Linked DNA regions of Homo sapiens: region 1 is linked to region 2. The links come from fine-mapping of genetic effects on gene expression. A gene starts in region 2. The other region holds a variant in brackets. All regions are shown on one strand. Distances are between the middles of the regions.

Region 1 (4,391 bases), 100 kb after region 2:
GAATGTATATTCTGTTGATTTGGGGTGGAGAGTTCTGTAGATGTCTATTAGGTCCGCCTGGTGCAGAGCTGAGTTCAATTCCTGGATATCCTTGTTAACTTTCTGTCTCGTTGATCTGTCTAATGTTGACAGTGAGGTGTTAAAGTCTCCCATTATTATTGTGTGGGAGTCTAAGTCTCTTTGTAGGTCACTAAGGACTTGCTTTATGAATCTGGGTGCTCCTGTATTGGGTGCATATATATTTAGGATAGTTAGTTCTTCTCGTTGAATTGATCCCTTTACCATTATGTAATGGCCTTCTTTGTCTCTTTTGATCTTTGTTGGTTTAAAGTATGTTTTATCAGAGACTAGGATTGCAACCCCTGCTTTTTTTTGTTTTCGTTTGCTTGGTACATCTTCCTCCATCCGTTTATTTTGAGCCTATGTGTGTCTCTGCACGTGAGATGGGTTTCCTGAGTACAGCACACTGTGGGTCTTGACTCTTTATCCAATTTGCCAGTCTGTGCCTTTTAATTGGAGCATTTAGCCCATTTACATTTAAGGTTAGTATTGTTATGTGTGAATTTGATCCTGTCATTATGATGTTAGGTGGTTATTTTGCTCATTAGTTGATGCAGTTTCTTCCTAGCCTCAGTGGTCTTTACAATTTGGTATGTTTTTGCAGTGGCTGGTACCAGTTGTTCCTTTCCATGTTTAGTGCTTCCTTCAGGAGCTCTTTTAGGGCAGGCCTGGTGGTGACAAAATCTCTCAGCATTTGCTTGTCTGTAAAGTATTTTATTTCTCCTTCACTTATGAAGCTTAGTTTGGCTGGATATGAAATTCTGGCTTGAAAATTCTTTTCTTTGAGAATGTTGAATATTGGGCCCCACTCTCTTCTGGCTTGTAGAGTTTCTCCCGAGAGAGCAGCTGTTAGTCCGATGGGCTTTCCTTTGTGGGTAACCCGACCTTTCTCTCTGGTTGCCCTTAACATTTTTTCCTTCATTTCAACTTTGATGAATCTGACAATTATGTGTCTTGGAATTGCTCTTCTCGAGGAGTATCTTTGTGGTGTTCTCTGTATTTCCTGAATTTGAATGTTGGCCTGCCTTGCTAGATTGGGGAAGTTCTCCTGGATAATATCCTGCAGAGTGTTTTCCAACTTGGTTCCATTCTCCCCGTCACTTTCAGGTACATCAATTAGATGTAGATTTGGTATTTTCACATAGTCCCATATTTCTTGGAGGCTTTGTTCGTTTCTTTTTATTCTTTTTTCTCTAAACTTCTCTTCATGCTTCATTTCATTCATTTCGTCTTCCATCGCTGATACCCTTTCTTCCAGTTGATCGCATCCGTTACTGAGGCTTGTGCATTTGTCACGTAGTTCTCGTGCCTGGTTTTCAGCTCCATCAGGTCCTTTAAGGACTTCTCTGCATTGGTTATTCTAGTTAGCCATTCATCTAATCTTTTTTCAAGGTTTTTAACTTCTTTGCCATGGGTTCAAACTTCCTCCTTTAGCTTGGAGTAGTTTGATCTTCTGAAGACTTCCTCTCTCAACTCGTCAAAGTCATTCTCCATCCAGCTTTGTTCTGTTGCTGGTGAGGAGCTGTGTTCCTTTGGAGGAGGAGAGGCACTCTGATTTTTAGAGTTTCCGGTTTTTCTGCTCTGTATTTTCCCCATTTTTGTGGTTTTATCTACCTTTGGTCTTTGATGATGGTGATGTACAGATGGGTTTTTGGTGTGGATGTCCTTTCTGTTTGTTAGTTTTCCTTCTAACAGTCAGGACCCTCAGCTGCAGGTGTGTTGGAGTTTACTGGAGGTCCACTCCAGACCCTGTTTGCCTGGGTATCAGCAGCGGAGGCTGCAGAACAGTGGATATTGGTGAACAGCAAATGTTGCTGTCTGATCGTTCCTCTGGAAGTTTTGTCTCAGAGGAGTACCCGGCCGTGTGAGGTGTCAGTCTGCCCCTACTGGGGGCTGCCTCCCAGTTAGGCTACTCGGGAGTCAGGGACCCACTTGAGGAGGCAGTCTGTCCATTCTCAGATCTCAAGCTGCGTGCTGGGAGAACCACTACTCTCTTCAAAGCTGTCAGACAGGGACATTTAAGTCTGCAGAGGTTATTGCTGTCTTTTGTTTGTCTGCCCTGCCCCCAGAGGTGGAGCCTACAGAAGCAGGCAGGCCTGCTTGAGCTGTGGTGGGCTCCACCCAGTTCGAGCTTCCTGGCTGCTTTGTTTACCTACTCAAGCCTGAGCAATGGCGGGCGCCCCTCCCCCAGCCTCACTGCCACCTTGCAGTTTGATCTCAGACTGCTGTGCTAGCAATGAGGGAGGCTCCGTGGGCATAGGACCCT[T/C]CGAGCTAGGTGCGGGATATAATCTCCTGGTGTGCCGTTTGTTAAGCCCATTGGAAGAGCGCAGTATTAGGGTGGGAGTGACCCAATTTTCCAGGTGCCTTCTGTCACCCCTTTCTTTGACTAGGAAAGGGAATTCCCTGACCCCTTGAGCTTCCTGGGTGAGGCAATGCTTTGCTCTGCTTCAGCTCACGCACGGTGCACTGCACCCACTGTCTGGCACTCCCTAGTGAGATGAACCTGGTACCTCAGTTGGAAATGCAGAAATCACCCATCTGCTGCGTCGCTCACGCTGGGAGCTGTAGACTGGAACTGTTCCTATTCGGCCATCTTGGCTAAGACTTAAGTCTACATTTCTATTATCATTTCTTATTATGTGCAATCTTTTTTTTTTTTTTGAGATGGAGTCTTGCTTTGGTGCCCAGGCTGGAGTGCAATGATGCAATCTCGGCTCACTGCAACCTCTGCCTCCTGGGTTCAAGTGATTCTCCTGCCTCAGCCTTCCAAGTAGCTGGGACTATTATAGGCACATGCCACCATGCCTGGCTAATTTTTTTGTATTTTTAGTAGAGACAGGGTTTCACCATGTTAGCCAGGACGGTCTCAGTCTCCTGACCTTGTGATCTGCCCACCTTGGCCTCCCAAAGGGCTGGGATTACAGGCGTGAGCCACTGTGCCCAGCCTGTCATGTGCAATCTTGAGTATCACTGCTGTGTGGTGGTGGGGACAGTGAGATGAAGCTGAGGGAGAGGAAAAACCTCATTGCTTAGCTTCCAGTTAACTGAATGGGGTATAGGCAAAACATCATCACACGTACAACCTCCTTACCTGTCCTCTTTCTTTCCTCACTATTCCATGTGCTTTCTTATCTCCCTTCTAGTGTAACATCAGAGAAGGGGTGTACTCTGTGCCCTAGAACTAGGAGCTAACAGAGAAAAACCAAATGTGATGTGGAGTCTGCTAGACAGGCTACTGGAGCAAGAGTGAAGCGATGAAAGTCTCATCATTGGGACATATTAGGTGAGTCACTTCCCTTACACCAGCCTCATCTATTCAACAGGATAATAATTCCCAATCTTCCTGACCACTCAAGAATACTCTGGAGATTAACAATGAACTCATATGGGAAAGCAAACTGTGATCTTAGGTGGGAGGGAAGGACCAGTCACTTTTGAGTAATTACCTTAACAGAGACAATCCAGATGTCCTAGAGTTCTCCATGGTGGGCATTAAATTAATGGCACAGTAATGTGAGGTGTTTTCATCAGAATTTTGCCAAGTATGGTTCGTGGACTACTTCATCAAAATCATCATGGATTGCCTGTTAAAATAGTAGATATTTGGGTCTACCATAAGTCAGCTGAATGAAAAACAGGGAGATGTGGTGGCAGGTATCTATATTTTGAGAAATTTTTCCAATTGGTTGTGGTACTCATCCATGTTTGAAAAGCACTGCTGTGGATTTGCAACAAGGTCTATGAAAAATTTGAATCCTTTCATGTCTAATTTCATCATTGGTTGCTCCTACTACTTTGCTTTTAATATCTGTGTCATTTCTGTTTTGTGAAATAGGTACCAGTTCCTTTAATTCAGTAATTTTCATTCAGTGATTTATGTGTGGAGCATTGATCTAAGCACCGGGGAAACAGCACAGAGAACAAGACAAACATGGTCCCCGGACATATCATTTCTAGTTTGAGAAAACTGGTAATAAGTAGGTAAACAGATCAATGAGCAGGGTAATTTCATATGGGGATTTGTGTTTTAACACATATAGAGTATTAAATGACCAAGATAAAGATAATTACAGATGGGGTTGTAAGTGAAGCTCCTTTTCAGGAAGTGACATTTGAGCTGAGTCCTGGATAACAAAAAGAAGCTAGGCACAGACTGACTTTTTGCCAGTGTGTATACAATGTGCATGGGCACCGTGTGTTCCAAGAGCAGGGAAAAGCTCAAGTGCCTAGAGCCTGGCAGACAATGCACAGACTGGTGAGATGAGGTTGAAGGGGCAGATAGGAGCAATATTGTTTAAGCCATTGTAAGGAGTTTGGATTGTATTGTGAGT
Region 2 (4,391 bases):
TGCATTTCTAATGATATAAAAATACAGTAAGACCCTGAAACAACTTGAGTTTGGATATAACATGATTGGTGATAGCAGGTGGGGAGAGAGTAAAATGGATGGATGATATTTAAGTCCAAGTGCTCAGTGAAGAATTGTTTGTGGCAACAAATCACAGCTGAGTCCTTGATGAATTTGGGTTGTGTAGCCAGCTAGCCAAATAGACTCACATCAGTCATTCCATCCATCCATCTCTCAGTAACATAACCTGGAATTTTATAGAATGAATTTCTGGACTTCACTTATCATGTTATCATGTAATTTAATTGTATACTCATATTTTAAATACACAAATATGTATACTGTTACAAAAATGTAATACCACATATAAAATTAACTTTCAATTTGCCTTTTTTTGTTTAACAATATACATTGAACAATTTTTTTCATGTGAGTAAATGTAACTCCACATCATTTTTTCATCACTGTATAATGTGGCTCTATATGAATGATCAAACTTTTCTTAAACCAATTTCCTTTTAGAAACATATAAGTTTTTGGCTCTTTAAAAAAAACACTATTGCCACAACTACTACAATGACCATATTTGGCATAGGAGTATTAATGTATGATAAATCTCTAGAAGAGGAATTGATGTGTCCAAAAGCACATATCTTCTAAAGTTTGATATTGCCAAAATGACTTCCAAAAATGTTGTACTACTTAATAGTCTCACAGTACATGTGAATATTTGTTTTACCATATGCTCATCAACTCTGAATATAATCAATATTTGTCTTTTCTAATTGTACAGATGAAAAATTAACTCTTATTTTTATTTTCAATAGATCTCAATTCTATGAGCATATGCTATTATTCCCTTCTTTCAGATGAGGAAACTCAGGTTCACAATGTGTACCTGACGATTAATTGATGATTCTTCAGGCAGCACAGCTTCCTGGTAACACCACCATGAGGACTCTGGAATGAAACATTACTCTTTTTTAAAAAATTCTGTATCATTTTCCTCACAAAACTTCTAATATCACAACAGCTTTCACTTTAAAAGCACTTACTATATGCCACATGTACAATAAGCACTGTACATGTATTAACTCATGTCATTAAAGTAATTTTTTCTTTGTCTTTTCTGACTATAAAAAGATAAAAGTTGCCCAGTGCAGTGGCTCAGGCCTGTAATTCCAGCCCTTTGGGAGGTTGAGGCAGGAGGATCACTTGAGCCCAGGAGTTCGAGACCAGCTTGGGGAACATAGACCCTGTCTCTACAAAAAAATTAAAAGACTAGCTGGACATGGTGGCACACACCTGTAGTCCCAGATACTTGGGAGTCTGAGGCAAGAGGATCACTCGTTTCGAGGAGTTTGAGGCTGCAGTGAGCTGTGATCGCACCACTGCAACCCAGCCTGGGCAACAGAGTGAGACCCTGTCTCAAAAAAAAAAAAGAGAAAGAAAGACAGAAAAAAGAAGAGAGAGAGAGAGAGAGAGAGAGATTAAAGTTACCTTTTTAAAAAGGATATAGAAGTACGAAAAATAAAAAGTAAAAATTGCATTCAGAAATCTCACTCTTGTTCCAGGGTCTTTTTTTGTTGTTGTTTCACAACTGCTGCCAAGGCCACCCTGCTCTACAACAGCTAAGAACCAGATTGCAGAGGAAATGGAGGCTAGAGGAGGGACGACTGATGGAGGAGTTATCCTGGGAGTGGAAGAATGGAAGAGACAATTCTCGAAAGAAGTAGAAAAGTTCAGTAGCTCCAGAAAAAGAGGTAGCCCCTCCCTAGTAATCAGAGTCAAGCAAATAACATTTTTCCCGCTGGGATAGGAAACAACAGAAAAGACTGACAGGGCCAAATGTATAAGTGGGGGGCGGGGAGGGAGAGAGGGTGGGCCCACTTCTGCCGCGCTTTTGGTGGGAGTGGAAATTAGGGACCCGAGCTCACTGGTGACGTAGATCTCATGTGACCAGGAGTCGACGTGTGCAGAAGTCCTGGTAATCTGGTCCTTGTTCCCGTCTGGATACCAGCTTCCTTCAGCAGCGCAGGCGGTGGTCCCTGAGGCCCGTGGAAGGAGTCAAACTTGCGGGAATTTTGCAGGTTGGTGTCACTGTAGGTGTTGACTGGGGATTTCTAGTGTGGGGGGGTTTAAGGCAGAGACTTGTGGGAGTGCCGGTCAGGTCCGTCCCTCCACCCTCCACCTCCAGGTCTACGGGAACTGATGACCCTTGGGAAAGGGACTAGGGGTCCTAGGAGAAGAACAGGGAGACCTGTGGTAGTTTAAAAATAATCATCCTCTGCTATCTAAGACTGCTTTCCGGACCCCCACCCTCCTCCCGAACCCCGCCTCAGTCTTAAAGATAGTTTGGAAATAATCTGCTTTCTCACTCTTTGTCTGATGGGAAAAACGAACTGACTTGCATGCACTGTGGAGAGGGGGTGAACTAGGGGAAACAAAAGGTGGGAAACTTTCCATATCCGAAACCCTAAAGGAGGAAAGCTACGTGTGTCAGTCTCTGGCGCTGGTCGGCCCACCAAGCGCTCGCCCCACCCCCACCGTCCCCTCCCGTTTCCAGTTTATCTGCAGGGCTGTTGTTTCCAGCAAGACCCAAAGCTAGAAAAGGAGGAGGAAGAAACTGACCCGATCAGTGCCAGGTAGGTGAGAGGAATATTATAAAGTCTCCTGGGGTGGAGACAAAGGTTGTAAGCGCCACCGTTCCTGCCGGCTCCCTTCCACCCCACCCCTTTCCCCTCTTCTTTTCTCTCCCCCTTCTCCTTTCCCCTCTTCCTCTGCCTGCCAGCCACCTTTCTCTTTTCTGGCCTGGTCCCTGTGTTAGGCCCTATGGGGGAAAAAGGTCTGGGGAGGGCTGGACGGCGGAAAGGAGGGCCTTGGAAAAGGTTAGAGGGAAGGACAAGAGAGAAGTGAGGAGGTGGAAAGTGGAGGTAAAAGGAGTGGGGATAGTGAAGCTCTGATTGCTGACTGGGCTTCTTAGGTGGAAGATATTTTATAACAGCTCTGAATAAAAAAAATTAAATGCTAAGGCCTCTGTCCACAGCACCTGTCCACTCACCAAGTCTTTAACTTACTGTCTTCTTTTTGCTTTCTAGAAGTCATTGTATTCAAAGAAGAATAAGCAAGAAAGAAAAGAAGGAAGGAAGAGAGGTAGACAGATACAAGATGAAATCCTGTCAAAAAATGGAAGGAAAACCAGAAAATGAGAGTGAACCAAAGCATGAGGAAGAGCCAAAGCCTGAGGAAAAGCCAGAAGAGGAGGAGAAGCTAGAGGAGGAGGCCAAAGCAAAAGGAACTTTTAGAGAAAGGCTGATTCAATCTCTCCAGGAGTTTAAAGAAGATATACACAACAGGCATTTAAGCAATGAAGATATGTTTAGAGAAGTGGATGAAATAGATGAGATAAGGAGAGTCAGAAACAAACTTATAGTGATGCGTTGGAAGGTTAATCGAAACCATCCTTACCCCTATTTAATGTAGTTTACCTTGATTTTTATCTGATATTAACAATACCATATAGCTTGCTTTTTATTAGCATTTCCTGATATTCCTTTGTCCATATTTCTACTTATAACCTGTTGCTATTAATGGTTTTAGATGTATCTCTTGTTATCTGCATCTCATTGTTTATTGTATTTTGAACCAATCTACAAGTCTCTGTCTTTTAATAAAAGAACTTTACACATTTGTAAAAAAGAGGTTCTTGGTAAGATATAAAATGGAAAAAGGCTAAGTAATATGTGAATATCATATTTTTGAAAGGTAAAAAGTACATTTGTATATTACATATATGGACATAACTTGTGAAGGATGAAAGAAAGTACAGCCTCTCGGTGGTGGGATTATGAATGATTTTTCTCCTTTTGCTTGTTTGTATTTTCTATATTCCTAAAATTAACACACATTATTATTGCTAGAATAATAAAAGTTTTATAAAAAAGAAGCAACAAGCAGCACGTATTAGTTTATTTCTAAAAGTATTGGGGCATTTAATATTTGTTGACAGAATTTTAGAAGAAATGTGAACTTGAAAGTAACTCCAGACCACTTAGCTAGAATAATAAATTTTACATATTTTCTCATCTTTAAAATAAAGAAAATAATCTCACAAGGATCTGGTGAGGGCCAAATAGAGTAATGACTGTGAGCTATGTTTGACAGAGTTTTGTTCCCATCCCAACTCCGTAAGAGATTAATTTCAGCGATTTGGAAGGGTGGAGAAAGTAGTTCTTATCTGTGATTAAGAACAAACCCAAGGCCGGGCGCGGTGGGTCACACCTCTAATCCCAACATTGGGAGGCCAAGGCGGGCAGATGACGAGGTCAGGAGATCAAGACCATCCTGGCTAACATGGTGAAAGCCCGTCTCTACTAAAAATACAAAAAATT

What was found. PIP is the estimated chance that this variant, and not a neighbour inherited with it, causes the effect.
Region 1: its variant is the best candidate, but not a certain one, in a credible set for the expression of TCEAL9 in whole blood (TOPMed, PIP 0.56).

The regions. Positions count from the first base shown.
Region 1 is chrX:103,458,012-103,462,402 of GRCh38, forward strand. LL0XNC01-250H12.3 (a long non-coding RNA gene) reads left to right here. Exons shown (of 6, transcript NR_188440.1): 4 at 3,204-3,343. Among named protein-coding and RNA genes, the nearest start is that of LL0XNC01-250H12.3, 55 kb to the left of the region's middle. RefSeq lists an enhancer at 2,166-2,665. The variant T/C (reference allele first, on the strand shown) is at 2,327.
Region 2 is chrX:103,354,517-103,358,907 of GRCh38, forward strand. TCEAL9 (transcription elongation factor A like 9) reads left to right here and starts at 1,990. Exons shown (of 3, transcript NM_016303.3): 1 at 1,990-2,090; 2 at 2,567-2,645; 3 at 3,099-3,946. The coding sequence starts at 3,169. The coding sequence ends at 3,483. It overlaps LOC124905204 (a long non-coding RNA gene), which reads right to left and starts at 2,048. Exons shown (of 2, transcript XR_007068284.1): 1 at 1,938-2,048; 2 at 1-960. RefSeq lists an enhancer at 1,443-2,642.